Homo sapiens: one gene and its partners. The protein of the gene in region 1 interacts with the protein of each later gene in a biochemical or structural test. Each region holds a gene or a part of one and is shown in the gene's direction. Other genes may lie near its edges.

What was found.
Region 2: the proteins of XIAP (region 1) and UBE2D3 form a complex in vitro, tested with the Homo sapiens proteins (5 studies listed by BioGRID).
Region 3: the proteins of XIAP (region 1) and CASP9 form a complex in vitro, tested with the Homo sapiens proteins (12 studies listed by BioGRID and IntAct, with this or other methods).
Region 4: the proteins of XIAP (region 1) and HTRA2 form a complex in vitro, tested with the Homo sapiens proteins (10 studies listed by BioGRID and IntAct, with this or other methods).

The regions. Positions count from the first base shown.
Region 1 is NC_000023.11:123,897,813-123,905,294, forward strand, and holds part of XIAP (E3 ubiquitin-protein ligase XIAP), read left to right. Parts: intron 1-2,680; coding exon 2,681-2,881; intron 2,882-7,482.
Region 2 is NC_000004.12:102,817,243-102,824,724, reverse strand, and holds part of UBE2D3 (ubiquitin-conjugating enzyme E2 D3), read left to right. Parts: intron 1-7,482. UniProt on the Homo sapiens protein: Accepts ubiquitin from the E1 complex and catalyzes its covalent attachment to other proteins. In vitro catalyzes 'Lys-11'-, as well as 'Lys-48'-linked polyubiquitination.
Region 3 is NC_000001.11:15,506,830-15,514,311, reverse strand, and holds part of CASP9 (caspase-9 isoform alpha precursor), read left to right. Parts: intron 1-6,404; coding exon 6,405-6,439; intron 6,440-7,178; exon of another isoform or gene 7,179-7,236; coding exon 7,237-7,413; intron 7,414-7,482. UniProt on the Homo sapiens protein: Involved in the activation cascade of caspases responsible for apoptosis execution. Binding of caspase-9 to Apaf-1 leads to activation of the protease which then cleaves and activates effector caspases caspase-3 (CASP3) or caspase-7 (CASP7).
Region 4 is NC_000002.12:74,525,350-74,533,004, forward strand, and holds the start of HTRA2 (serine protease HTRA2, mitochondrial isoform 1 preproprotein), read left to right. Parts: upstream 1-4,583; 5' UTR 4,584-4,657; coding exon 4,658-5,163; intron 5,164-5,267; coding exon 5,268-5,472; intron 5,473-5,561; coding exon 5,562-5,756; intron 5,757-5,989; coding exon 5,990-6,022; exon of another isoform or gene 6,023-6,062; intron 6,063-6,217; coding exon of another isoform or gene 6,218-6,247; coding exon 6,248-6,353; intron 6,354-6,506; coding exon 6,507-6,576; intron 6,577-6,908; exon of another isoform or gene 6,909-7,269; coding exon 7,270-7,365; exon of another isoform or gene 7,366-7,470; coding exon 7,471-7,636; 3' UTR 7,637-7,655. Other genes in the region: ATP-dependent RNA helicase homolog DQX1, read right to left, coding at 144-380; lipid droplet-regulating VLDL assembly factor AUP1, read right to left, coding at 1,451-1,487, 1,592-1,710, 1,899-2,014, 2,122-2,241, 2,387-2,489, 2,591-2,657, 2,899-2,972, 3,068-3,140 and 4 more.

The DNA.
Region 1 (7,482 bases):
CCTCCCAAAGTGGTGGGATTACAGGCGTGAGCCACTGTGCCCAGCTGGAAAGACCATTTTTCAGAAGGGTCGATGAGGGAATGGAAGGGAGCCACCAACATCTAATTAGGTGGGCACAAGTAATGGAGCAACAAAACAAACTGAAAATAAAAACAAGTCAAAGATAGGAGAAGCAGGAAAGAGCAATGTCTAGTTGCCCTCTGGACATTTCCACCTAGAATGCATCTCTAAAAACCACTCAGACTGAATCTAATCCTGCACTTTTTTCTCCTGTATTGGTTAATAGTACCACAGTTCACAAGGTTGCCCAGTAATTTATGTTGTTCCTAAGCTCTTTGCTCTCTGTAATCCTTTTACATTTAATTAATCATCAAATTTGATGGATTCCACCTTTTTAATGTTGCTTCAGACTTTCCCACTTATTCTGCTCTAGTTCAGGCCCTTCCTTGTTTTTCAACTGGACAATTGTAGTAGTCTCCTAACTGGTCTTTTGTCTGTATTATAACCTGCCAACAGAGTTTTTCTTTTTGTTTGTTTGTTTTTGTTTGTTTTGTTTTTTTGTTTTTCTGAGACGGAGTCTCGCTCCGTCACCGAGGCTGGAGTGCAGTGGCGCGATCTCGGCTCACCGCAACCTCCACCTCCGGGGGTCACGCCATTCTCCTGCCTCAGCCTCCTGAGTAGCCGGGACTACAGGCGCCCACCACTATGCCCGGGTAATTTTTTTTTTTATTTTTTGGTATTTTTTGCAGAGACGGGGTTTTGAACTCCTAGGCTCAAGCGATCTGCCCGTCTTAGCCTCCCGAAATGCTGGGACTACAGACGTGGGCCACCATGCCCAGCCTTATCTTTTATTTTTATTTTTTAATATAGATAGGGTCACACTTTGTTGACCAGGGTGGTTTCAAACTCCAGGCCTCAAGGAATCCCCCTTGGCCTCCCCAAAGTGCTGGGATTACAGGTGTGAGCCACTGCACCCAGCCTCCTCTCTTTCAAAAAACATTTATTGAGCTATAATATACATACAGTAGCCGGGCGCAGTGGCTCACGCCTGTAATCCCAGCACTTTGGGAAGTTGAGGCAGGTGGATCACGAGGTCAGGAGTTCGAGAGCAGCCTGGCCAATATAGTGAAACCCCATCTCTACTAAATATACAAAAAAATTAGCCAGGCGTGGTGGTGCATGCCTGTAATCCCAGCTACTCGAGAGGCTGAGGCAAGAGAATTGCTTGAACCTGGGAGGTGGAGGTTGCAGTGAGCCGAGACGCGCCATTACACTCCGGCCTGGGTGACAGAGCGAGACTACGTCTCAAAAAAAAAAAAAAAAAAAAAAAAAATATATATATATATATATATATGATTTTATATATATATGATTTTATATATATATGATTGTGTATATATATATGATTTTGTATATATATATGATTTTGTATATATATATGATTTTGTATATATATGATTTTGTATATATATATGATTTTGTATATATATACACACGCACACATACACACATAAAGTGCTTAAAGTACCCTAATCGTAAGTTTTCTACTTGATGAATTTTAACATATATATGTTAAAATATATATTAAATATGTGTTAAATATATATTAAAATGTATATGTTAAAATATATATATTTATCTGTGTGACTATCCCCCAGATTAAGATATAGAACATTCCCACAACCCTAGAAAGTTCTTTCATGCTCCTTCCCCATCAGTACCCACCCCCAAGTTATATTCTGGCTTCTATTACCATAGATTAATTTTGTTTATTACCATAGATTAGTTTTGAAGTTCTTATAAATGGACTCATGCAGTAGGTACTCTTTTGTGTCATAATGATGAATTATGATTATGTTTTGCTCATTATATCTATGAGATCCATCCATATTGTCTGTGGCAATAGTTTTTTTTTTTTTTCTTGCTGTGTAGCGTATGAATATACCACAATTTATGTATCTGTTCACCTGATGATGGACATTTGAGTTGTTTCCAGTTTGGGGCTATTATAAATAACACTACTATGAATACTCTTGTGCATATCTTTGGCAGAGATATACACTCATTTTTAATACCCAAGAGTGGAATTGATGAGTCAGAGGGTATAAGTGTCCTCTCCTAGCACTTCCCTACACATGCTGTGTTCCTACTTTAAGTATCATAAAAACAAGTTTCCATTGACTTTCTTGCTTTATTCAGTCCTACCCGCTCTGCTACAGAAACGAAGTTTGAGAGCTAGGAAATTGACACATTCAAGGTTATAGACTGGGACTTCCCTGATTTCCCATCATTTTCCCCAAATAATTGCTAGTGACTCAGTAACAACATCCACTCTTTAAGTAACTTAGGTTAATTGTTAATGAGTACAGCTAGATTCAAAACAGTTCAGATTTTTGAAGCACTTAACCTTTTTCTTGCCTATTTTACCTTGCATCGTTTCAAACACTACAAAATACATACTCATTGCATTTACAATTAATTGTAAGATTCTGAAAGTGATTTTTCAGTGCCTGAATACTTCAAAAAATCTTCCCAAAGCAGCTTTGCTTTGCTGGTTTGTTTTTATTCTTTCGCTTGCTCCTTAATTTTTTCATTTTAACTATATTTTGCTATTGAGTTGTGATAATGAAAATAATTGTTTAAATTCTATGTTCTTTTTCCTCACCAATTTTTATTTCAGATGATACCATCTTCCAAAATCCTATGGTACAAGAAGCTATACGAATGGGGTTCAGTTTCAAGGACATTAAGAAAATAATGGAGGAAAAAATTCAGATATCTGGGAGCAACTATAAATCACTTGAGGTTCTGGTTGCAGATCTAGTGAATGCTCAGAAAGACAGTATGCAAGATGAGTCAAGTCAGACTTCATTACAGAAAGGTATGCATTGCTGTTTTTAAAAAGCAAGAAAGGGCCAGATGTGGTGGCTCATACCTGTAATCCCAGCACTTTGGGAGGCTGGGACAGGTGGATATGGACATTTTTTAAACGTAACCTTAATGCTGTGTGTTAGTCTGCTCAAGCTGCTATAATAAAATTCCATAGACTAGGTGTCTTAAACAACAGACTTATTTCTGACAGTTTTGGAGGCTCCAAAATCAAGGTGCTGGCTGATTTGGTTATTGATGAGGGCCCTCTTCCTACCTTGCAGATGGCTGCCTTCTCACTGTGTCCTCACATGGCATGGGTTGGGATTGGATGGGACAAGATGGAGCAAGTACTCTGGTCTCTTTTCCTCTACTTTTAGGAACACTAATCCCATCATGGGGGGGTCTCATCTTCATGACCTCATCTAAACCTAATTACTTCCCAAAGGCCTCATTTCCAAATATCATTACATTAATCATGGAAAAAAGATTAAAAATATGAGTTCTACCAGCCTGGACAACATAATGAAACTGTCTCTACAAAAAATACAAAAATTAGCCGGGCATGGTGGTGTGTGCCTGTAGTCCCAGCTCCTTGGGAGGCTGAGCGGGGAAGATCACCTGAGCCAGGGAGGTCAAGGCTGCAGTGAGCCATGATCATGCCACTACACTTCGGCCTGGGCAACTGAGCAAGATCTTGTCTCAAAATATATGTATCTCTCCTTTAAGGATGATGGACACTGTAGTGCTTGCCAACAACATCGAAGGTTAAAGAAGAAGTTTCAAACTGAGTACACTTTTGGGTACTTTACCTGTAATAGTTCTCTAAGCTCTTGACCATCCTCCCTCCAAAAAGATGAGAATTCTCCTACTGCTAAAAAAACTTAAACGTTTACTTATTTTTGACGCATTTAAGATCCTTTTGATCTTTAAGATATTTCAAGTGCTTTTGAAACACTATTCAGATAATCGTATAAGTTATGAAACAGTATGAACATTAATGATATTTAAAATTATATTCATTGATGTAAGAATCAATGGAAAGCTTCCAATTTTTTCCTTATAGATGCATTTATTTAAAACTTACACAAGCTCCACTTATCTTGGTGGTGGTAAAATAAACCCTTTAATTGTCATCTTTCTTTCTTTTTTTAATTTTTTATTTGTTTTAAGACGGAGTCTCACTCTGTCGCCCAGGCTGGAGTGCAATGGCACGATCTTGGCTCACTGCAACCTCCGCCTCCCCAGCTCAAGCGATTCTCCTGCCTCACCCTCCCGAGTAGCTGGAATTACAGGCATGTGCCACCACGCCCGGCTAATTTTTTGTATTTTCAGTAGAGACAGGGTTTCGCCAAGTTGGCCGGGCTGGAATTTTTCTACTATAACAGAAACACAAGCAATTGTGTCATTTTTTTCCTGCATCTTAAACACGCGCTTAATTGTTTGGCCATAAATTGTTAGTTTTCAAACCTTAATGTATCTGCAGCAGAAGGGTTTAGCAGGTTGTAATAGGAAGAGATCAAGAGACTGTGCATTAGGGAGAGTGTCTTTTCTCTATCTAACAGGAGTCAATGGGCGCTCATATTATCACTGAGACTACAAACTAGGATGGTGTGGGAAGGAGAGCCTAAGGGTTGGAATTCATTTGAACTCTCCTCAGTCTCACTAAATTGAGAGGCAAGTAATTGATACAGGCTCTCTACTCATGCTGGGACTGCTGCCTATTTGTCTTCCCAAAAGCTGATGAGGAAAGACTGGCACTAAGAATCTTTTAATTTTATATAAAATAAGGATGGGGCTAACTGAAGTGAAGCAGGTGAGGGTTATTAGAGAAAATATAACATTGTCACTTACTGAGAAATCCTAGATTTAGTGCTAAACTTTTTTGCCAATGGCTGTGTAACAGAGAATGCCCTAGTAAAAGGTCTTGTAAAAATAGTACCGAATCAGTATCTTTTTTTCTTTCTTTGAAAAAATTATGTAGTGTAAGATAAAGCCCTTTATTTAGTATATGTACTAAAGTACTTATTTTAATCTTTATGTGTATATATATTACTGTATATAATATAAAAATCAAATAACCCATATTCATTTCTTATCTGTCTTTCCATATGAATCTGCTCTAATAGTAAAATGAATAACATCAGTTTATTCTAGAAGAGGTTTTAAATAATTACAAATATTAGCAAATAACATCAAAAGTTATCTAGCCTTTATTGCTCATGTGCCAGTAACCTTCTGACCTAGAAGAGGGCTTTGTGGGGAGGAGAAGGGGAAAGGCGCTGTAGAGAAGTATGTAGAATCCAGTAGTTACCTTTAAGCCAAGAGGGAAGTAATTGCCAGTGGTAAACTACTGGTCTGAGGGGAAAAGATCTATGCCCAGAATATCACCATCTCAAGTTAGTGGCTTTATACAAGGATGAAATAATATAGAAAAAAATGAGATGATATGGTATCACAAACAATCAGAACCAAAGGAACCTTAAAGATTATTTTATAATTTTTTTTTTTTTTTTTTTTTTTTGGAGACGGAGTTTCACTTTTGTTGCCCAGGCTGGAATGCAATGGTGCAATCTTGGCTCACTGCAACCTCCACCTCCCGGGTTCAAGCAATTCTCCTGCCTCAGCCTCCTGAGTAGCTGGGATTATAGGCATGTGCCACCACACCCTGTTAATTTTGTATTTTTAGTAGAGACGGGGTTTCTCCATGTTGGTCAGGCCGGTCTCCAACTTCCAACCTCAGGTGATCTGCCCGCCTCGGCCTCATAAAGTGCTGGGATTACAGGCATGAACCACTGCACCCAGCCCATTTTATAACTTTTATGACCTTAATTGGGAACCTGAAGTACAGATGGGCTGTTGCCTAGGATCACGCCGATAGTTGGGAATAGAATTCAGATTTCCTGACTTCTGGTCCAGTGTTTTGGGGTTTGTTTCAGTTTTTTTTTTTGTTTTGTTTTTTGTTTTTTTTAGATTTTAAAAAATTGTGATAAAATACACATACAGTTTACCATCTTAACCATTTTTAGTGTATGGTTCCGTAGTGTTAAGTACATTTACATTGTTGCACAGTCAACCTCCAGAACTCTTCATCTTGCAAAACCGAAACTCTACATCCATTAAACAGCCAGGCGTGGTGGCACACGCCTGTAGTTCCAGCTGCTTGGGAGGCTGAGGCAGGAGGATTGCTTGAGACCAGGAGCTCAAGGCTGCAATGAGCTGTGATTGCACCACTGCTCTCCAGCCTGGGATACAGAGCAAGACCCTATCTTTAAAAAATAATAATAATAATAAAAACATGTTCATTAAACAACTCCCCATTCCCTCTCTTCCCAACCCCTGGCAACTACCATTTTACTTTTTGTCTCTATAAATTTGACTACTCTAGGTGTCAGTATTGTTGTTGCTTTGTTTGTTTGTTTGTTTCTTCCTTTTTGTGGAGAACGGGGTCTCACTATATTGCTCAGGCAGGTCTCGAACTCCTGGGCTCAAGCTATCCTCCCGCCTCTGCCTCCCTGAGAGCTGGGATTATAGGCGTGAGCCACCGCGCCCAGCCTGTTTGTTTGTTTTTAACTCGTTGTAGCATTACATCTAAAAGTAATGTGGAAATTACTTGTTCTCCTTTTGATTTTTTTGGCATGAAATACACACTTCATTCTGACTTTTTTTGGTGTTGATGCTTTCTTATAATATAAATCAGCTTATAGTGCCGTTTCTTTACTTGTATTTTTTCCTCTGCCTTGAGTACGTTTTCTCTATCTGTATACCTAGTCCCATTCCCCACTCTACCCCCAACTCCCTGAATCTACTTTGTGAACTCATGTTTCAAGGTTCAGCTCAGAAGTCACTTCTTTCAAGTTTTCTCCCGCACCCACAGCAGAGTTAGGAGCTCCTTCTTATCTACTCCTGGTGCTGGTAGAGTTTTGTTTTGTTTTATTTTGTTTTGTTTTGTTTTTCTTGAGACAGGGTCTCGCTCTGTCGCCCAGGCTGGAGTGCAGTGGCACACAATCTCAGCTCACTGCAACCTCTATCTCTCAGGTTCAAGCGATTCTGCTGCCTCAGCCTCCCGAGTAGCTGGGATTACAGGCATGCGCCACCACACCCAGCTAATTTTTTTTGTGTGTATTTTTAGTAGAGATGGGGTTTCACCATGTTGGCCAGGCTAGTCTTGAACTCCTGACCTCAAATGATCTGCCCGCCTCAGCCTCCCAAAGTGCTGGGATTACAGGCGTGAGCCACCAGGCCTGGCTGAGCATTTTGCTTTTTACACTATTTTGGGACTGGTTTCTGCCCTGCCCATTAGACCAAGCTTCTTAAGGGTAAGTGCTTTATCTTCTTATCTCTGATGCATTCCATGTTTGAGCCTATAGTTTTTATTATGCCCAAGAGGGTACTTTTTAAGAAGAAAGAGATTAAACAATCCTTTCCTCTACCCCCTAGCCAGAGAAACCTTTCTGAGACATAGATGTGATCATATCTGTCTCTAGTTTAAAACCCTTCACTGCCTCCCAGGACCCTTGGGATCAAGTCCAAACTCCTTTACGTGGCTCGCCTAATCTTTCATGATCAGGCACCCTTTTGTAGCCTCATCTCATGCTATTTTCTCAAATTCTG
Region 2 (7,482 bases), on another chromosome or scaffold:
TTGTGCATGTGGAACAGAACACGTTAAAGGAAGGCCTCTGATTTTTTTTCTCTTACAGGTCATACCCAGCTGCTGTGACACCACTTAAATGATTTAAAAGCTTTAGAGAGACAATATAACAGTGGTTAAGAGTGTAAACATTGGAGCAGAAATGCTCCAGTTAGAATTCTAGCTCTGGGCAAGTTTATGTGCCTCTATAAGAAGGGTATCTGTTGTAATATGAACAATAAATGACTGTGTGCCTAATATGTACCAGGCACTGTTTTAGACATTGGGGTGGCAGCAGTGAACAAAACAAATTTTAAGTTCCTAGATTTGTTTTGACGATTAAATGGATTAATGTGCAAATTTGAACAGGCTCTTGGCACATGACACTCCTAGTTATTACTGCTATTTTAATATCACAATTTATAATTTTTAAAAATCGTTTTTGTTTAAGAACTTTGATTTCTAGTTTAGTACTCTTAGTTAACCAGGTTGTCTCCTTTTGTAAATATTTTGAAGATTTATGTAATATAGACACAACATAAAAACTTGGCATATTGGAAAAACCAGTGTTTATGTGAACATTATTGATTCAACTTACAGAAACTTTGACGTGTGCATGTGGTTTGGTTTTTCAGCTGTTAATGTTAAAATCACATGAGGCAACTTTCAAACATTCCACATCCAACAATTTTAGTGAGTGGACAGCTCTGAACTGGAATGCTCTTCGGTTTAGGCACCTCTTCTAGAAATATGGGGTCAAGTAGCCATTGATGTCAGTATGGTATGCTTGTGTTACGTACCTATTTCGAATTTATTCTTGTCTGAAGGTCCCACATTTCAAGTATTATGATATATCTGTATTCCTCGTTAATATTTTACTGAAATGATTATTGGAATAGTTTTAACCTTTAGTCCATTTGATCGAGCTTTTGAATTTATACTTTGCTTCAGCTGTGTTCTTGGAGTAAGTTTTTTGACTGTTAGACCAATCAACTTTTTTCCTGTATTCTTTATTTGAACGAGCTGTAATATGGTCTTAAATAGGGCTATTAAACAACAGGAGTTAAAAGTGGCACTCCAAGTTGATTGGTATTGAGAGCTGTAGACAATTTTACCACTCCCATTAAACAGGGACTACAATATATGTGTTTTAGGGACGTTTGAAGATAAATATGTGAACCAAGCCTAAAAGAATAGCTCATGTTTTCATTGTATACACCCTGTTAAGTTTTCGTAAGGGTTTTTATTTCTGGAAGTATGACTTTAGTGTTTATATATGATTATAAGCAAGCGGCTAGCAGGGAAACCATGGGTAAAGGGTTAAAAAACTCTCATTTGATCTTCGTTTCCCTCCTACCACCACTTCCACTGAGATAATTTCAAGATTATCTCCATCTCGAAATTGAAAAACTTAGGCATAGAGGTTAAGAAGATGACCCAGGTTCATGTTGTGACAGTTGGGATTAGAACCTAGGCAGCCTGGTCCAGAGTATGTGCTCTTAACAACTACAGTTTGATATCATCCTTTAGTTTTTTTTTGTCATTCAGAACGGTTTACTTTTGCATATAGTATTATCTATTACAGTAGTTAAGACAATGCAGTCTCATCTAAACCCTAACTCATTTAATCCTCAAGACAACCATGTGGGATAGATGTGAGAATTTTATAGATGAAGTAACAGGCTCAGAGAAATAGTCGTCTAGTCACACAACTAGTAAGTGACTGGGATTCAAATCAGATAGGCACCAAAAGCTCAAGCTCTTTTTTGAACCATTTCAATTCCTTTTTTTGTTGTTGTTGGAGACGGAGTCTCACTGTGTTACCCAGGCTGGAGTGCAGTGGCGCGATCTCAGCTCACTGCAAGCTCTGCCTTCTGGGTTCACGCCATTCTCCTGCCTCAGCCTCCTGAGTAGCTGGGACTACAGGCGCCCACCACCACCCCCGGCTAATTTTTTTGTTTTTTTAGTAGAGGCAGGGTTTCACCGTGTTAACCAGGATGGTCTTGATCTCCTGACCTCGTGATCCACCCGCCTCAGCCTCCCAAAGTGCTGGGATTACAGGCGTGAGCCACCACGTGGCCTGGCCCTTCAATTCCTGTTTTATAATGTATGTGATTTTAGTTTGTTACCTGAAATAAGCTGCTTTGCTCTCCCACTTATACATCTAAGTAATTGGGAGTTAGCTTTACTCTTAGGTTATAGCTAATTTGTGAGTTAAGATTTTGGCTAATAATATTTTGAAAGTAGAAGTGGATTTAATTCTTTTGGGGTAGTCTCTTCAAGCACTGAAAACTAACATGTGCCAGTTAACTGCTTAGGATGTCTTAGAGTGAACAAAATATATTTATTGTCCCCAACTAGTATATAGGCTGGGTAAACTGTCTTGCATGTGTTTCATATATGGTCCTCAAAGCTTGTTGATAGCCAGCTCACTTTCTGTGTAGGATAGTTGTGACTGAAGGATGCTGATAATAATAGGACCTCAGTATTTGTTTAATTTGAAAAAGGATGCATTACTGACACTGCATACTTTTCTTTCATCATGCTCATCTGCAGTGTTGATTCTAGTTTTTGTTATTTATACAAATAAAAAGTTGAATGCTCCATCACTGGGATGAACTACTGTGTCACTAGATTGCTCTGTCAAACTTTGCCCCTGAGTTTAGGTGACCCTTTTTATCCAAGACAGGCAATCTTTGAGGATTCTCCACAGCATGTTGCTATAATCTATCTATTAAAAAAGAAACTAGGTTCGTAACACTGAGATAAAAAAATGTTTCAGATTAAAATCTCAAACCTAGGTTGGTTTTTGCATTCTTTTTTTAAATAGCAGTTTTCTTGTATCTGTTAGCGTATAGAAGAGCTTACTGAATATTATATATTGTTGGGTGTGACATGAATTACATTTATATTCCAGAACATTTGGAGTTTTTAAAAAAATTTTGTGGGTACATAGTTGGTGTATATATTTATGGGTTGCATGAAATATTTTGATACAGGTATGCAATGCATAATCACATCAGGGTAAATGGGGTATATACCTCGAGCATTTATCCTTTGTGTTACAATCCAGTTATACTTGTTTACTTATTTTTAAATGTCAGATTGTTTAGAATTTAAAAAAAAAAATACAGCTGCATGGGGGTCTTAGACTTACTAAATCATTTTCCCTGGAAACACATAATTTTGAAAATTTTCTAGGTGATTCTGAAGCTCCTCTCTGATTAAGAACCACAGATACAAGGGAGTAAAGGTCCTAATCTGCATTAGACGTAGTATTCTAGTCCCAGGGAATAAATGAGGAAGATGGTCCTTATCTATGGTAATCTCTGCGTTCAGTGGTGAAAATAAGCATGTAAACACATGAATAGTTGTTTGTCACTTTGTAATTTACCTTTCAAGAATATTAGATCTAGTAGGGGAGGTATTTAAAATAAATTTTCTATACTGTATTTTTTGTACTAGTATTATTACAATGTGATTTGTCTTTTATTATAATGACTTAATTCCCCTTGCCAAAACCAGTATTTTGAAATTAATGAAATAAAACTCTCCATTCTTGGAAATGTTGTGGTCTTGAGCTTGCTACCATAGCAGTGTTATTTCATAATTAAAAATGAATGCATTCACCAAATATCTTACTGCCCAGTTTCTCTTATTAGATAAGATTTATTCAGAATTGTATCCTCAACCTTGTTATGTAGGGAAGGGAAAAGTTTAGGGAAGTATTTTTATACTTTGTTGAAACATCTGATTTTTATCTCCTAATGATACTTTCAACATAATCTATTGTAAAAGAGACCTTCAACTTTTCATAGCTGAATTTGTCGTATTTAAATGTTTGTCAATTGTGAATCATGATTTCTTGTACCTTTTTCAGTATGAAATACTTACATTAATCCTAACCTTGCTGTAATTTCATGGCTAATGTGTAATTGAATGTTTTCTACTACTGGGCAGCTGTTTGGCTGTTAATCTTTGTTTTTTTTGTTTGTTTGTTTGTTTTGTTTGTTTTAATGTCCATAAAACACCCTTCTTGCTTTCATGGAGCAGAGCTTCAAATCTAAATTTGGGTTTCTTTGCCCATTTTTAAATAATGCTTACAAAAGAATGGCTTTGAATAATGTTAAGTGACTTTACCTTCAGTGGTGATCGAAAGAAAATTAGTAATATTCAATCCATTCTTAGTACCTTGTGTAATGAACACGCATGCTTGTTTCACCTATAATTACGACTAAACAGGAAGTTAATACCTTGTCAGTGATGCAGTGAGATACTGTGCAGTGCCTACTGTTAAACCTTAAGATAAAAAAGGATTTCTCAGAAGAAATTTCAAATTAAAATGTGTTTTAAAGGGACTATTTGGAGTTTTGTGAAATTGTTCATATCTTTTTGCCAAGCATCCTTCTCTTGAAATAACCATGTTTCTGAAGTTTGTTGTTCCCTGCCTTGATATTCGCATCTACATATTTTATACAGACATTTCATAACATTAAAGTTAATAAAACTTTATAGTAAACCAGATCTTTATATGAACAGTTACAGTAGTTACTGTCTGCCTGATGGACAGCTAATTGCACTGCACTTCGACCTCTATTGTTGGTTCGCACCTTTGTATTTTTCTAGGTTGGTTGTAAAGTCTTCTTGAGGATGATTCTTAAAATTTCTTAAGGCACTTACTCCCTTTGTTTCCCACCTCATTTTATCATCTCTTCCAGTCCCCAAAGCAGTGTTTTGTGTTGCTCAGTATAGGTTTTTGAGGCAAGGGCTGTTTTTATAATGCTGATTCACAGTCATACAAATCTTGTCTTTTGAGTCATGTAAATCTTGTCTTTAGTTCTGAAAGAAATAGACTCTCAAATAGAATACAAGAAATTAACCTTTAGTAATGGCATAAGCTTTTAGTTTTCCGGAAAGTGCTGAGAGGAAATGTATCTATACTACTGCGTTCTGTCCTCTGTATGACCTTTGTGTGATGACGTGCAAAATAGATGGTAGAGATTGGGATAACAAATGATTTGTGGAACATCGTGGTGATAATTTTACTGTCTTAAAGGTAGAATCCATGAACTTGGCCTTGCCACTATATAGGCTTTTGAATTTTGACAAGCCTTGGGGGGATGAAACCTAGAATAAGTTATTTATGGCGTTACGCTTTAATAGGGTTGACACTTAAAACCTTGTTTTCATAAATGCTACCTTTTGGTTATGTTGATCTGATGAACAGATACTGGCTGTCATTGAAAGAAAGTTAACCGAATGTTCAGATACTTATTGGGCTCCTGGAACATGGCTGCTCTGTAGCTTCATGAATATTCATAATATTCATAAATATTTGTGAATAAATATTTTTAGTATTTCCAATTTATAAGCTCTTTGAAAGGAGGGAATTTTTTTTTTTTTTTTTGAGGCGGAGTCTTGGTCAGCTGCCCAGGCTAGAGTGCAGTGGCGCAACTGCGGCTTACTGCAACCACCGTCTCCTGGGTTCAAGCAATTCTCCTGTCTCAGCCTCTCGAGTAGCTGGGATTACAGGCACCCGCCATCATGCCCGGCTAATTTTTATATTTTAGTAGAGATGGGATTTCACGATGTTGGCCAGGCTGGTCTTGAATTCCTGACCTCAGGTGATCCGCCTGCCTTGGCTTCCCAAAGTGCTAGGATTACAAGCGTGAGCCACCACGCCCAGCAAGGGAGGGGACATTCTTATGTTTCTCCTAGCATCCTTTCAGGTCTTTAATGTTTTCAATACCTTGGCCTACTGTTCTTTGTAGCCTGTGGTTGGTCACCACTGCTAGTACCACTTATCATTGAATGAGGAAGATAGAGAATAGAGAAGCAGAAAGCATAGTTTAACATCTCCAACAATCAACTGTTAAATCCCATATCCCATAGTGACTACAGTAAAGGTCTTCCTCAAGATAAACCATTTGCAGGCTTTGTATTAAAAATCTCATGTAAGGAATGTTTCAGAATAAAAAAAAAAATAGTGACCAAACCCATTACTGCTTAAATCATGTACTTCCAGATGAGAACACTCACCAGTGGCTTAAGCTGTACCTGTTGGTTGCCTTTTAGAGAGATTTTTTTGGTGAAAAAAATCCTGCCCTATTTTCTACCATGGTGCCCACCAGGTCTTCAGGAAATAGGCAAACAACTCAGTTGTGTAAAGTCTGTTGCTGTCTCAAATTTCTTTGTAGTGTTTTAACTAATGAGGCGAACTAGACCATGTGAGAGCTTTGAGAGGGTCTCATTTACCTAGCTTAGAAAGAAGGCAGAGGGGTCTCCTTGACTTCTTTTCCTATAGGTTTTTTAAGGCTTTTAAATACAAGTATTTTTTCCAGTGAGAAGGTCTGGATTCTCACACTAGCCAAGTGTGCAGAAAGTTTGAGGAGAAGCAGCTCAGAGGAAGATGACACTAAAAGGAGAAAGTTTCCTAAAAGAGCACTCTGTGGAAAAGAAATGTCCAACCTTTTGTTCTTTTTATAGCTAGTACAGTTTCTTAGTGTTGTACCCTGATTGTATGTGCTTGATCTTAGTGTCCCTTCAACGTGAGTGGAACCTTGAGCAATTCCTAAAGTAAGTCAGTGTCCCCAACCAAACATTTTCCTGTTTCAGTGGCCTTAATAGTTGAGTAATGCTGTTCCCCTTAGGTGAGGGGTAGTCAGCACAGTATAAAAAAATTTTACAGGTGCCGTGTGAGAGCTGTTCCTTCTGGTTCTTGGCACTGTTCCTCTTCCTCTAGACTGCTAGGAAGGAATAAGCTGAAAATTTCAATTGTGTAATTTTTTAGTGTTTTTGTCCCTGAAGCCTGTGAAACTTTAGGCTCTAAAAACATTTTGTTAGGTGACTATCGTAGACAAAATTACTTTTAAAAATGCTGAGTATGGGTGTCGTTGGAAATTGATTTCCAGTCCAGTAAATAGTCTTGCTGTGGGATAGAATCATTTTCTCAGGCCATGTAACTTGAAAAATAGTACTGGATTCACACTACGTACGAATAATGAGATACAGACTAACGGTGGATGGTTATGCGGAAATAAATACTAAGGAAAACATTAGTTTTCCATATCGTGTTCATTCTGGAGCATTGAGTAATAGTTTGGTGCAGTTGAGAATTTTTTTCCCTCAGTTTGCCAAACATTAAATTATCTTTGCAAGGACACCCTGTTGAGAAAGGAACCTTTTTGAAACTTACCCCTAGTCCAAATTTTTAAGTTGTTAGTAGGTACACTTAGTTCACCTATCCTAAAGCTGAACATGTTCTATGCTTGAATGTAATCATTTCTTTCCCCTCTCTTAAGGGACTCAACTGTAAAACAGAGAAGATGAGCTCTATTTCCGTAAAGTGGTTATAAGAGTACAGTTAAACACTTGTGGTGTACGACTGCTAGTATATTTAAAAATCAAAACTCATTTGTCTTCTATTTCGAAACCATCAGTGATTTCCCATTGCCTTTGGAATAGTCTGACTAAATTCAAGGGCTCTTTTAAAAG
Region 3 (7,482 bases), on another chromosome or scaffold:
CAGGAAAGGATGCTGTAGGTCAGTGTTTCACACTGGGGACGATTTTTCCCCGACCTCCAAGGGACATTTGACAATGTCTAGAGACAAATCTGGTTGTTATAGCTGAGGGTGGGTGGGTGCTACTGGCATCTAGTGGGTAGACAGAGATGCTGCCAAAACCCAACAGTGTACAGAGTAGCTCTGCACAATAAAGAAGAATCTGGCCCAAAGGGTTAGTGTGGTGGGGCTGAGTACACACACTGCACTCATACATATTCATTGAGCATGAGTGTCAATGAATAATAATGTGGACACATCAGTTTTATTGAGTTGTCAAGTGTGTCGGGTATTGTTCTATGTGCCTCACATGTATTAATTGTTTGAGGTGTCATCACAATCCTATGAGGTTGGTAGTTGCTCCTATTATCCTGTAATACAGATGGGGAAATCAGAAGCCCAGAGACTCTGAGCTCCTTGCCCATTGTGACACAGGTGCTAAGTGTTGGAGTTGGGATTTGAACCCAAGTACCTCAGACTCACTCCATCACTGTCTCATGAAGAACAAATGGCTCATTCTCTTTCTTGTCCCTATATTTGTGCCATTACTCATTAGCTCACACAAATGTTTACTAAGTACCTGTTGGGTTCTAGGTGTTGGGGATGCAGCTTCGAACAAGGATGCCCAGTCCTTGCCTTCAGGTGGAGAGGGGCAGGTACTCAGTTCATGCTTGCCTAATTTGGTCTTTATTCACGGCTGTGGGTAGTGCTATGAAGCTGAACACGGTGCTTTAGAGGTGCATCATTAGGGGACCCACCAGAGAGAGTGGCTTTGTCTTTGTATATTCAAAGGAAAATGCCTTTTCCTTCAGAATGGAAGGAACTTTCTTAGTTTCAGACGTGATGCCTTGTGTGTAACTGCTTGTTCCAGCCAGGGCCTCTTGCCCGGGAGGACTGGGAGAACTGTTGGTGGCTGTGTTCTCATGATTCTCCAGAGAAAGAGAACCAATAGGGGGTGTGTGTATGTGTATAAAACAGCATCTTTTGTTCAATGCTGCATCCCCAACACCTAGAACTCAGCAGGTACTTAGTAAACATTTGCATGAGCTAATGATTAATGGCACATATACACAGACAAGAAAGAGAATGAGCCGTTCGTTTTTTTTTTTTTTTTTGAGACGGAGTCTTGTTCTGTTGCCCAGGCTGGAGTGCAGTGGCGCGATCTCCGCACACTGCAAGCTCTGCCTCCTGGGTTCACGCCATTCTCTCGCCTCAGCCTCCCGAGTATCTGGGACTACAGGCACCTGCCACCATGCCCAGCTAATTTTTTTGTATTTTTTTTAGTAGAGACAGGGTTTCACCATGTTAACCAGTATGGTCTTGATCTCCTGACCTCGTGATCTGTCCGCCTCAGCCTCCCAAAGTGGTGGGATTACAGGCGTGAGCCACTGCACCTGGCCAAGCCATTTGTCCTTTATGAGGCAGTGATGGAGTGAGTCCGAGGTACTTGGTTCAAAGCCCAACTCCAACACTTAGCAGCTGTGTCACAGTGGACAAGTAGTTGAGTCTCTGGGCCTCTGTTTTATATATATACATATACACACATACACACACGGATATATATAGAAAGATATATGCATTTTTTTTGTGTGTGTATATATATATATCTTTATCTAAAAACATATTTATTACAAGGAACAGGCTCATGCAATTATGGACGCTGAGAAGTTCCAAGATCTGCCATCTGCAAGTTGGAGACCAGGAAAGCTGGTGGTGTAGTTCCAGTCTGAGTCTGAAGGCCTGAGATCCAGGAGCACCAATGGTAGAAGTCCCATTCCAAAGGCAGGAGAAGACTGATGTCCCAGCTCAAGTAGTGAGACAGAGAGAGATCAAATTCTCCCATTCTCCACTGTTTCGTTCTATTCAGGCCCTTGACGGATTGGACGCGGCCCACCATCCTGGGGAGGGCCATCTGCTTTACTCTGTCTACCTATTCAAATCCCATTCTCATCCCCAAAACACTCTCACAGGCACCCTGAGAAATACTGTTATATTTAACCAAATATTTGGGTACCCTGTGATCTAGTCAAGTTGACCTGTGAACTCAACCATCAGTGGCTTTCTCTGCTCATGCCTTGCCTGGGTTGGAACTTCCTTGAAAGTAGAAGTTGGCTTTTCAGCCCTACCTGGCTTCTTGGTCTCTTTGCTCTGGGGCTGGTGGCTGTGCTCACCTCCCATTACAACTCAGGGTCTCTGAGCCCCCAATTCCCCTCTGGCAAATGGGGATGTGTGCCAGTACTTCTGTGCTGAAGGGCCTGCTCTGAGGAGTAAATGAGGCAGTGTGTGGAGGGACTTCACATGGGGCCTCCTATTGAGTGAGCCTTGGGTCTTGTTGGTCAGCTCTGCTTCCTTCTGTGATTTCTAAATTGCCAAGGGCTGGGGAGGGCCAGTCCTAGGGCATCTTCCCTTCTGTAGGGTCCCCCAGTTCCCCTGTTTCTTTCTGTGTCCTGATTGAAAATCACAGAGTGCTTTGACCACCCTGTGACCCAGCCAGCTACAGGTTTTTCCCAGCAGACCTGAGCCCAAACCTGGGCCTTAAACATTCTCAGGCATTGATAAAGGTATCTAGGTAGGCTGGGCATGGTGGCTCACGCCTGTGATCCCAGCACTTGGGGAGGCCAAGACGGATGGATCACTTGAGGCCAGTAGTTTGAGACCAGCCTGGCCAACATGATGAAACCCTGTCTCTACTAAAAATGCAAAAATTAGCTGGGCGTGGTGGTGTGTGCTTGTAATCCCAGCTACTTGGGAGGCTGAGGCAGGAGAATTGTTTGAACCTGGGAGACAGAGGTTGCAGTGAGCCAAGATTGTGCCATTGTACTCCAGCCTGGGCGACAGAGCGGGACTCTGTCTGAAAAAAAAAAAAAAATTAGGTGTGGTGGTGTAGTCCTAGCTACTTGGATGGCTTAGGAGGGAGGGTCACTTGAGCCCAGCAGGCAAAGTTTGCAATGAGTTGAGATTGTACCACTGCACTCCAGCCTGGACAAGAGAGTGAGACTCCGTCTCCAAAAACAAAACAAAACAAAAAGGTATCTAGGTTATCACCCAAAACAACTGAAAGAAACCAGCCTTGGCCCTGAGCCAAATTCCTTAAACCCTCATATAAACTCCTTACCCTGACCTCTTCACTTTGGACCAAACCTAGGTAGACACCTGTTTTTTTTTCTCGCCTCCGCACCTCGAGGATTGCTTTGGCCAGATCGCCCTGGCATTTATTGCTTCTTTCTTTGGAATCCCAACTGGCCCCATCTTAGGACAGTTTGGGGCACTCCCTTGTGGGAACTCTTCTGCTGCCACTTCTGGGGTGATTCCAGCATAGGTTCGGAGGGACGAAACCCCTTCTTTCCCTTGGGTGGCAGAGAGGATGTGCTTGCCCTCTTCTGTTTGTGTTGGAGACCTGGGCACATGCCCAGTGACTCAGGCTGGAAGACTGATTCTTTTGCACACACTTAGCCATGTGTGTTTATTGTCCCCATGGGAGTGGCCATTTCAGGAGAAACTGGTCTCATGCACCTTGTATCTGACCATGTCACCCAACTTGAGGGGCCCTGAACATGCCATGCTCCTGCATCCTCCCTGCCTTTGCTCATGCCGGGGCCTCTGCCTGGAGTGTCTCCTCTCCCTCTTTCTTTGGGCACCCCTTGGTTGATTTGCTCCCTCCATGGGCACCTGTAGCCCTTGGCCTCTTGAGAGCAGTCATTTTGCTTTATCAATAGATATTTCTAATTTGGGGAATGAGTGAATTCCTCAGTAGTGGATAGTAGTTATATTTTTGGGGTACAGCGGAATTTTGGAAATGAGCAAATGTTCTCAGAATGAAGTCTGTGGATGAATAGGAATTTTCAGGGTAGGTAAAACCATTTCTAACTTTAAAAATGGGATGTGAATGGGATGTGAGTGCTTTTCTGCTGTGGCCTTTAAGCTGGCAGAATAGTTCAGACCTGTTCTAAGCAAGGAATGGCACTGTTATTGGAACAGGAGTATGGGCTCCACTGCAACTTGGAGGTGGCCACTGTATTCTCCTTGTTTAAAAAAGAAAAAATGTAGGCCGGGCGTGGTGGCTCATGCCTGTAATCCCAGCACTTTGGGAGGGTGAGGCAGGTGGATCACCTGAGGTCAGGAGTTCGAGACCAGCCTGGCTAACATGGTGAAACCCCATCTCTACTAAAAATACAAAAATTAGCCAAGCGTGATGCAGGTGCCTGTACTCCCAGCTACTTGGGAGGCTGAGGCAGGAGAATCGCTTGAACCCAGGAGGCAGAAGTTGCAGCGAGGCAAGATCGCGCCACTGCACTCCAGCCTGGGTGACAGAGCGAGACTCTGTCTCAAAAAAAAAGAAAAAACATCTCATAACCTTTTAGGCTGGTGGCCAGTCAACTTCTTGCTAACGGAAATGAAAACTCTTTTGATGTTGATGGAAAATAATCATCTTTATTCATTTATTCATTCTGCAAGTATTTCCTGAGGACCTGCTGTGTGCTGGGCCCCTGTGGACTCGCAGACAGTGAGCATCCGCTCTCCTGAGCTTCTCTCACCTCTTTCTGCTCTGGAATTTCTTCTCAATGAGACCACACTATTTCTATACTCTCTGGTGTCTGGCTTTTTTCACGCAGCACGTTTTCTTTCTTTTTTTTTTTTTTGAGATGGAGTTTTGCTCTTGTTGCCCAGGCTGGAGTGCAATGACGTGATCTCGACTCACTGCAACCTCTGCCTCCCAGGTTCAAGCGATTCTCCTGCCTCAGCCTCCCGAGTAGCTGGGATTACAGGCGCCTGCCCCCTCGCCTGGCTAATTTTTCTTTTTTTTTTTTTTTTTTTGTATTTTTAGTACAGATGGGGTTTCACCACGTTGGCCAGGCTAGTCTCGAACTCCTGACCTCAGGTGATCTGCCTCCCAAAGTGCCAGGATTATAGGCGTGAGCCACCGCACCTGGCCTTACGCAGCACATTTTCAAGGTTATCCCGCATTGCGTGTATCAGTGAAGCGGTGTCACTCGTCTGGGGTAAATACCCAAGATTCATTGTCTTCACAGCCACGGAAGACTAGGACACGGACATACAGTGAGGTTCAGAGTGGAAGTATAATAGGTGAAAGAAAGAGAAGAGCTCTGTCTGCTGCAGAGAGAGGGGTTCCAGTGAAATGGGTTGCTGTTTCTGCAATGAAATGCAAGGGGTTTTAAAGATGAGCCTGAGGAGATGGTGTCTGATTTACAAAGGGCACAAAGATTGGTCAGACCAGGTGTTTCATTTGCATAGGATGCATAAAACTGGTTAGGGCTAGGTGTGCCATTTGCATGTGGTGCGAAAAGCTGGCCAGCCCCACTCCAATCTTGTGTTATGCAGATGGGTTCTCTACCTGGCCAGTGCCATGTTGCCTACTTCTTTACTGTCTTGTGGTAACAAAAGGGAAGATAGAGCCTCTTTGCTGAGTATATCTGGCCCCCTGGTAGCCCTTTTCTATTGGCACAGCTGCTGGCATTCACTCCTGTGAGCTTCCAGCTTGCTTATCTATGTCTGCAGCTTGATTTTTCAGGCTGCTCTTTTTTAGAAAAGAAATGATTTGAGGCTGGGTGCAGTGGCTCACACCTGTAATCTCAACACTTTGGGAGGCTGAGGTGGGTGGATCAACTGAGGTCAAGAGTTTGAGACTAGCCTGGCCAACATGGTGAAACCCCGTCTCTACTAAAAATACAAAAAAATTAGCCGGGCATGGTGGTGGGTGCCTGTAATTCCAGCTACTTGGGAGGCTGAGACAGGAGAATTGCTTGAATCTGGGAGGTAGAGTTTGCAGTGAGCCAAGATAGTGCCATTGCACTCCTGCCTGGGCGACAAGAGTGAAACTCCGTCTCAAAAAAGAAAAAGAAAAAAGAAAAAAAAGAAAAGAAACGATTTGGGGATTTTGTTAAAAGGGAAATTCTGCCGAGGACTGTTTTACCCTCACTATCTGCCTAAATAATTTCTTTCTGTCTCCTGTATCATCAGTAGCTCATTCCTTTTTAGGCTGTGTAATGTTCTCTTGTGTGGCTGTATCACAATTTGTATATCTACCAAACTGTTGTTAGATTGGTTGTTTCCATGTTGGGGCGTGATGAATAAGGCCTCAGGGAACATTTTGGCCAAGTCTTTTGTGCCCGTTTGCACTCCTTGCTCTTTGATATATACCTAAGGGTGGACTTGCTGTCAGAGGGTAGGTGTGTGTTTAACTTTGTTAGAAACCTCTAAACAGATCTCCAAGGTGGCTCTCCCACCAGCAGAGTCTGAGGGTCTGAGTTCTCGCTGCTCCGTTCTTGGGGGGCTGTCCTCACAGAGCCCCTTGCCCCTCCTCTGCTGTAACCCAACATTCATGTTTCTCTCTTTCTCTGCCTCTTCAGGTGCTCTTGAGAGTTTGAGGGGAAATGCAGATTTGGTGAGTCTCCATGAAATTTGGGCCAGTAGCTCGGGCTCTGGGCCCTTCCCTCCCCACCCCTCAGGTCCTTCCCTGCAGGTGTGTCAGGAGCCCAGGGAACCCAACCCTAGGCAGTGCAGTGGGGGTCTGGTCTCAGCCTCCCTGACTCCGGCCCAGCGCCTGCTGGGGCAGATTGTTCATCTCTGCGCTTCCTCATCTGCAAAGCTGACAGCAGAAGCAGGGCAGACCTGATGAGGGGCAGTCATCGGGATCCAGACCAAGTCGCCACTCTCTCATTCACAAGTATTTATTGTGTGGCTCCCATGCTCTGTGCTGGGGCCACCTGGGAAGGAGCCATCAGTCAGTTAGGCGAGAGAGAAGTTAGACAAATGAGTATATAAATAGAAATAGTGATAAGTACCATCAACAAAAGAACAGGCTGCCTTGAGAGAATTACAAGGGGACTGAGCCTGGGGAGAGGGCAGCCTTGGGTGCCTCCAGGTGGCCTGGGCATGGTTCTGCTGACAGAGTTCTCAGGTACACCCCGGCCTAGGTGACCCGTGAGGTCCTTTGGGATGAATGCTCATGGCTGTTGGATTTCCAGGTTACCAGCTCCCTTCCCTTAATACCAAGATGGGGGGGTCACCTTCTAGTGCTAGTCTTCCCTGCAGTTGCTTCTCTTTTGCCCTGGAATGCCGGGTGGAGACCCTGCTACTCCTTGTGCGAGAGGGCAGACCCCGTTTTCTTCCCGCCTCTCCAGACTGTCCTCTAGGGAGCGTGGGGAGAGCCCGGGTTTACGTGGGTCCCTGTGCTGGCAGGCTTACATCCTGAGCATGGAGCCCTGTGGCCACTGCCTCATTATCAACAATGTGAACTTCTGCCGTGAGTCCGGGCTCCGCACCCGCACTGGCTCCAACATCGACTGTGAGAAGTTGCGGCGTCGCTTCTCCTCGCTGCATTTCATGGTGGAGGTGAAGGGCGACCTGACTGCCAAGGTACACTCACTATCTGTGGAGGGAGACAGGGTGGGGGGCAGTGGGTGGGGAAGTATCTTTTGAGGGACT
Region 4 (7,655 bases), on another chromosome or scaffold:
CATCTCTCTTCGTTCACCTTCCTCATGACCCCACGCAGCCCAGTCCCCCCTTGCCCAGGGAAAGGCCACTTTCCCTTTGTCCTCCCTTTGTCCTCCCTTTGTCCACTCCCAGAATCTGCCTGCCCCCACAACCCCCACCACACCTGGGTGCTCTTGCCAGAACCAGGCTCCCCAGACACCAGCACCACTCCAGTGGGGTTACTCTCCAACTGCTCCAAGAAGGTAAAGCGAGCAGCCCAGATGGGCAAGGCTTGGCGCTGCTTCAGCAGCTCATAGTAGCGGGAAGAGAAGGGAAGCCCATCAAAGGGGTTCACAGCCAGTTCAGACTCCCCAGGACTTGGGCCATACTCTTCTGCTAGCCTGAGAGGCTGAGAGGTCATGGTGGCTCTCTGGCAGGACCTGCAGAAGGCAGAGCAGCCAGTAAGGTCATATTTGGTGACCGACACCATCTTCCCACCTCAGCCCTGATCCTTAACCTCTACCTTCAGTTGATCATGCTCTGGGGCCCACCCTTCCCAGCATTTCCTGCCAGGAAACAGTGCTAGGTATTTTGATAAAGGGCTACTGAGAGTTAGTCGACAGTCCCTATAGTCAGGTAGTAGAAATCTACCTGAGACTATTACCCCGTTGGCAGGTAGTAGAAATCTTACTTAGGCAGGGGTCCTCAAGGGCAGTAGAAATTATGTGAGACCTAGTAACCTGTGGGAAAGTCCTGAAGGGAAAAGGATAAAGAATATAGGGGGTGGGGAGAGGAACAGCAGAGTCACAGGGATCCTGGATTCAAACCTGCTTGCAGCTCTAGGACGTGTCAGGACGGCAGTCAGCTCCAGACCCACGTAGTCACCACCAACCCTGACCGTGTGAAGTACAAAGGTAAATTCCGGCTCTACCTCAGGGATGGGCTCAAACTTCAAATCCTGAAGCCTGCTTTTGGGGTGGGGCTATTTGCTCCACCTTATTTAACCTAGTCAGGAACCTATGGAAAACAGGCTCCAGCTACCACACTGAGCATGTGTGAACTCTATAGATGATGTGTAGTGTGCTTGTGAAAGGCATGCTGGGACTTGTAGTTTTGCAGCAGCTTCCTCCAAAACCTGGGCTGATCACCCAAGCTGGGTCTTCAGTTCAGTTACACTTCCTTAATTTATCACTCATCACTTGGCATGAGGAGGTGATTTTAGACAGTTGCAGTCTGACTACCCCCTTCAAATGTACGAGAAGACTCTCACCCCCATCCCCCGCAGCCAAGGAATAAGGAACCCACTCACAGGGCTTTTGAGACCGAGAGAGACAACAGATGCCTTGAATGAAAACCATGAATTTAATGTGACATTGGGGGAGCCTCATCCTTCCCTTTTTACCACCCACCCATCCAGCCTGTTGTGAGTTGGGTGAGGGCTGCCCCCAGTCTCCGTCCTGCGGCTCTGGGTGCCATCCTGTTCCTTTGAGCTCAGTCAGCCTCCTGGGCTCGTCTCTCTGTGAATCTCCTGTGGGACATAGGGAGAGATATTATTCAGGCTTTGCCGTAGTAGCTCCATAATTCCATTCTCCAATTTGCCACATCCTATTAATTGTCCTCTAACCCCCTCACCTTCTTGCGTATTCATATAGTGCTTGCTTGCGCTCCTGCAGGCTCTCCTGCCGGGCCCAGGAAGACTTGGCAAATGTTAGGGCTGTTGGCTGAGGGGTCACCGGGCCAGAGCTGGGAAACTGAGGTGATCACAATGTCAGAGGGCTTGCGGAGTCATCATCATTAAACACGCATCGAATGCCTACTTTGCAAGAGAGGCACTATGCTAGGGTCTCAGGATCAAAAAAGAAAGGTCAGGGATAAGGGAGTACATAGCCTGCCCCCAACTCACCCCAACACTTGGATCTGACCATTTCCTGGGTCTCACCTTGGAGGCAGAGGCTGTGGGTAGGGACTGAGTTCCCTTGGTGATGTCTTCAGGCATGAAAGCTACGGCCCCCTCAAGCAGATTAGTGATAGTCAAGTCTACACAGCCAGTCTTGGCTGGGGAGAAAAGAGAAGGGAGTCCACTCCCTACTTACTTTCTTCCTTCACAACCCACTTTTCCTCCCTGTGCCCATCTCCCAGTGTGGGGCCACCCTTTCCCATACCCAGGTCTCTCTGGATGACACCCAATGGCACATGGGGCAAAACTTCCTTGACTCTCTGAGCCAGAGTTGCCAGTTGCACATCAGGAGAAGGACCAGGGGAGGGAGGGAAAGAAGACTGGGCTGTGGAAAAAGGAAAAAAAGAAAAAAGAAATTCTGGTAAGTAGAGAACTAGAAGGAGAGGCTAACTAGCACAGAAATAGGGGAGGAATCACAGTAGGCCGAAAAAAAAAAACCCCAAAAGCTGTAATGTATAGAGACCACATACCTGACTGGGGGCGCAATCTGGGGTGTCTTTGTCGCTTCATGTGCTCTGCTTTGTCAGCTGGAGTGAGCCGTGTCCCTGTCTGGCCCAATTCCTTGGCCACCAGCTAGGGAGAATTGGAAGACTGGAAGTGTCAAGATCTCAAGCTTTCCTCCCTCTCCTCCTAAGCAGGGACCCCGCCTCCACCCTGTCTGTGCACCCGACCACCTGTTGTACACGGAGTGCAAACTCCTCATTCGCTTCCCCTAGTTGGCGATGAACAGGACGAAGCCACCTGCAAAGAAACAATCCAGGGCTATGTTGTGGGCACCCAGGGTAGAGGCTGTCACCATTCCCCACTTTGGTACCTCTTTGCATGGTGGGTGGGAAAATAGTAAATACTGTAAATACTTTGTGTTGCCTCTGTGGTAGAACCTTGATATAAAGATCTACAAATGGACAGGGCAGAGGCCACTAATTCCTTGACCTTGAGGTGAGCCTCTCCCCAGCGACCAAAATGTGAGGACAGTTAATACCTTACTTGATACACCGTGAAAGGGACGAAAAGTGACCACAGCAGTTCTGAGACCCAGGAGGCATCTGACACCGTCTGAGGGGAGGGCATGAGATGAGGCCTAAGCCAGGGCCAGGGATGGGAAATTTCCCCTTCAAGCCCCAGAGATTCCCTGTTCAACACACACTCACCACAGAGACCAGGGGTCTCTGAACTTGCAGGGTAAGAGGTTGTACCACATCTTGGATAGAAAATGGCCAGGAACTAGAAGAGGAAGGAGAAAGTAGGATGGGAATCCAGCCAGCCTAGTCAGCAGCTCACACCTGCCTTATAACAGGCAACTGTCAAACTCTACAAGCACATAATTGAAGAATGAAGGGATTCAGGAGAAAGAACTTAAAGTGGACAGAAAGGAAATGAACTGGAGATGATGGGGTCTAAGGGCCGAAGAAAGTTGTAAAAACTCAAGGGCCCACAAGCTTGACCACCTACCCAGCTGGCGCCCCATACCTGTGCTAAACCCACCTGAAGCGCAGGAGCCCCTCCCGGCCATTGGTGGCCTCTTCCTCAGGGAATAGCAGCAGAGGAGTGGGGGGAAGCCTCGTGGAAGCACAGAATCTCTTGAGTGACTCCACCAACTCCCCCCGCCCATTCATCTCCATGAAGCCCCGAGACCAGCACACAAAGCTGGGGGGACTATTGAGTAGAGGCTGGGAACCAGGAGAAGAGAAAGCAAGAAGAAAAATATTGAGGAAAATGAAAAAAAAAACTGACATGTTGGGTAGAGGATCGGGGTTAGGGGTAAGGCTCAGTATCCTCCATGGGGAACGCGAGTGGGGACAGGGGGGCCTTCAGCTGGGCCCCAGGGAACCGCCCCGTGGCGCTCTCGGCCTCGCTCTCACTCACGGTGCTACAGGTGGTAAGCAAATTGACTATGTTGTGGTCGAAAGGTGTCACATGGTTGGAAATGAGGACCCTGACACTGTGATCCCGGAGTCCGGAGTCCTCCTGCCGGGCCACGAGCCCTAGCACCGCACACATGGTCCGCACTACGAATCTGGGGACACAGGAGGTGGTGACTGTGTGGCCTCGGGCCAGACCCAGCTCTGACACTCCCCGAACGCCCGCGTCGGAACCTGCGAAGGACGCTGTCTGGCAGCGCGCAGCTGACCAGGAAGACGTGGATCCCGAGAAAGAGGCGCAGGACGAGGAGGCAGAACCCGACTGGCGCGTAGAGCAGCAGCACGAGCAGTAGGAAGCAGTCACCCGGAAGCCTGGGGGCGAGAGGCGAAGTGGTCAGGCGCCGAAGGCCGAGAGCACGCGGGGATCGGTCTCTTCCCGCCGGGTCTCTTACCGGTGCGAGTCAAAGAGCCGCTCCGGCCCCGGCCCTGAGGGAAGCTCCATAACTGCTGCTTCAGGAGCGCCCGGCCGTCGCCGCCGCCGCCATTTTCGCGCCCGGCCGCAGGGGCTCTTGGGAAGGCGGAGTCTTTGGGCATCCGCCCGGGGTGAGGGGACCCGAAGTCCTGAGGCGCGCCGGAAGGGCTAGCGGTCCCAGCATACCCCGCGGCCCCTTGGGCCGTCTCACAACTCGCGTCCGGCGGAGACCACAATTCCCGGCATTCGTGGGGCAGGGAGGAGTCGGCCTCCCGGAATCCTGGTCCCGGCGTGCACTTCTGAAGGACTTCAGGTACCGGCGTGCCCCGCGTCCTACTGTCCGCCTGCTCGCGTCCTGGGTGCCGCCTCTGAGTAGGGCGGGCGAGGAGGCAGCCAAGGCGGAGCTGATGGCTGCGCCGAGGGCGGGGCGGGGTGCAGGCTGGAGCCTTCGGGCATGGCGGGCTTTGGGGGGCATTCGCTGGGGGAGGAGACCCCGTTTGACCCCTGACCTCCGGGCCCTGCTGACGTCAGGAACTTCTGACCCCCGGGCCCGAGTGACTTATGGGACCCCCAGTCTCTGGGCCCGGTTGTCTGTTGGGGTCACTGAACCCCGAGCATGCCTGACGTCTGGGACCCCGGGTCCCCGGGCACAACTGACTGCGGTGACCCCAGATACCAGGACCCGGGAGGCCTCAGAGAACTCTGGAACCCGTTCGCGCGCGTGGCTGGCGGTGGCGCTGGGCGCTGGGGGGGCAGTGCTGTTGTTGTTGTGGGGCGGGGGTCGGGGTCCTCCGGCCGTCCTCGCCGCCGTCCCTAGCCCGCCGCCCGCTTCTCCCCGGAGTCAGTACAACTTCATCGCAGATGTGGTGGAGAAGACAGCACCTGCCGTGGTCTATATCGAGATCCTGGACCGGTAATGGTGGGGGTAGACCGGGAGGCACTGAAGCCACAGGCTGGAGGGCGGGCGGGTAGGAGGGGTCAGAGCCTCCTCTTATCTGTGCTTTCCCTCCATTTCAGGCACCCTTTCTTGGGCCGCGAGGTCCCTATCTCGAACGGCTCAGGATTCGTGGTGGCTGCCGATGGGCTCATTGTCACCAACGCCCATGTGGTGGCTGATCGGCGCAGAGTCCGTGTGAGACTGCTAAGCGGCGACACGTATGAGGCCGTGGTCACAGCTGTGGATCCCGTGGCAGACATCGCAACGCTGAGGATTCAGACTAAGGTGGGGGCTGGGGTAGGCCAGGTCTGGTTGGAGCTGCTTATTTGCTCGCATCTTCAGATGACAGGTCTCTTTTACCCATTCTCCCTTAGGAGCCTCTCCCCACGCTGCCTCTGGGACGCTCAGCTGATGTCCGGCAAGGGGAGTTTGTTGTTGCCATGGGAAGTCCCTTTGCACTGCAGAACACGATCACATCCGGCATTGTTAGCTCTGCTCAGCGTCCAGCCAGAGACCTGGGACTCCCCCAAACCAATGTGGAATACATTCAAACTGATGCAGCTATTGATGTGCGTCCTGATAGGAGAGAAATGACAAATGATGGGGGAGGGGGGAGAGGCTGTGTGGTACAAGCACCAACTGATATATGGTGGATGAGCCTATATAGAGCTTAGGCTGCAAAAATGTGGCCACTTATTCATGGGCTGAGAAAGAAGAGAATTTGGAGAAAGTACCTACATCCTGGTATGCCCCCAGACTTAGAATCCCCAGATCTCTTTCATGTTTTCTCCTTGTCCTACAGTTTGGAAACTCTGGAGGTCCCCTGGTTAACCTGGTGAGTGAGACATCCTTCCTTCCAAGAATCCCTGCCCCAGGTCAGTGTGGGAAGGGTAGGTTTCCCCTAATTCAAGGATGTTTGGTCAAGTTTCTGAGCAGTTCTTTGTTGGCTATCTCTCAATATCCAACCAGATCTCCCCAACACTTGCTGGTACTTTTGTTCGGGTGCCCCCATCCCCTACTATTTGTTTAGGCTAGGGAACTGGGGGCTGTATCCCTGCAGGATGGGGAGGTGATTGGAGTGAACACCATGAAGGTCACAGCTGGAATCTCCTTTGCCATCCCTTCTGATCGTCTTCGAGAGTTTCTGCATCGTGGGGAAAAGAAGAGTGAGCCTGCCTTATGGGGAAACGGGTTCCTTTAATGTGGTGGAAATAGGGGAAGGGCATTCAGTGGGACTTCCTGGAGGGTGGTCTACTGGGAGAAGAGGGCAGGGAAGGAAGGATGTAGCTGGGTGGGGCTCATTTGTCCCTCTGTCACAGATTCCTCCTCCGGAATCAGTGGGTCCCAGCGGCGCTACATTGGGGTGATGATGCTGACCCTGAGTCCCAGGTATGAGCTTTAGGGACAGTGACATGTAATGTGACCAGTGTAATCAGAGGGGGGCACCTCTATTGAGCTTTGTTCTCATTTCTGTCTTTATCTAAGATGAACTGTGTCACACTTGAAATAATCACAAGAGCTGTCTCCCTTCATCATCTTGACTTTCTTATCCCACTCCACTTTGTACACCTGTCACCAGATTGATTTCATCCTGTTACTGCTTTGATTTCAAGCCTTCAATCCATTAACTTGGCATTTAAGGGCCATTTTCCATCTGTCTGTAAATCAACTTTCTAGACCTGGCTGTAATACCTTCCTATATGAATACTCAGCCAACCTGATTTCCTACTCCCATGTTTTTTATTTATGCTGTTCTTGTTTTATATGGTTAATATCAGATCCATCCTTTTAGGCTCAACTTAAGTTCTTTCCCCTTAAAGCTTCTCTTAGTATTCTAGAATGACATTAGTGCTATTGATTTAACACTGTTTGTCATTTGGTGCCCTCATGTGGTGTACATCTTTTATGTACATGTTGCACTTTATTGCTAGAAGACAGAAAGTGAGTTGCCATTGTATTTTGTAGTACCTAGCCCATGTCCTGTCCATATATTTATCAATGTGTTGATGAGAGACTTGAGGTGGAACTCAGGATGGGGAGAATGCCTGGGTTTGGCTAATAGGGTGATCTGTGTACTTTCAGCATCCTTGCTGAACTACAGCTTCGAGAACCAAGCTTTCCCGATGTTCAGCATGGTGTACTCATCCATAAAGTCATCCTGGGCTCCCCTGCACACCGGTGAGGGAGAGGCTGCAGTGTGATATGGGGATGGGCAAGGTGTGCATGTGTCCTTGAACTAGGCTTTGTACTCCTTCCTTTCTCTCTGTCCATTTTTCTCTATAGGGCTGGTCTGCGGCCTGGTGATGTGATTTTGGCCATTGGGGAGCAGATGGTACAAAATGCTGAAGATGTTTATGAAGCTGTTCGAACCCAATCCCAGTTGGCAGTGCAGATCCGGCGGGGACGAGAAACACTGACCTTATATGTGACCCCTGAGGTCACAGAATGAATAGATCACCAAGAGTATG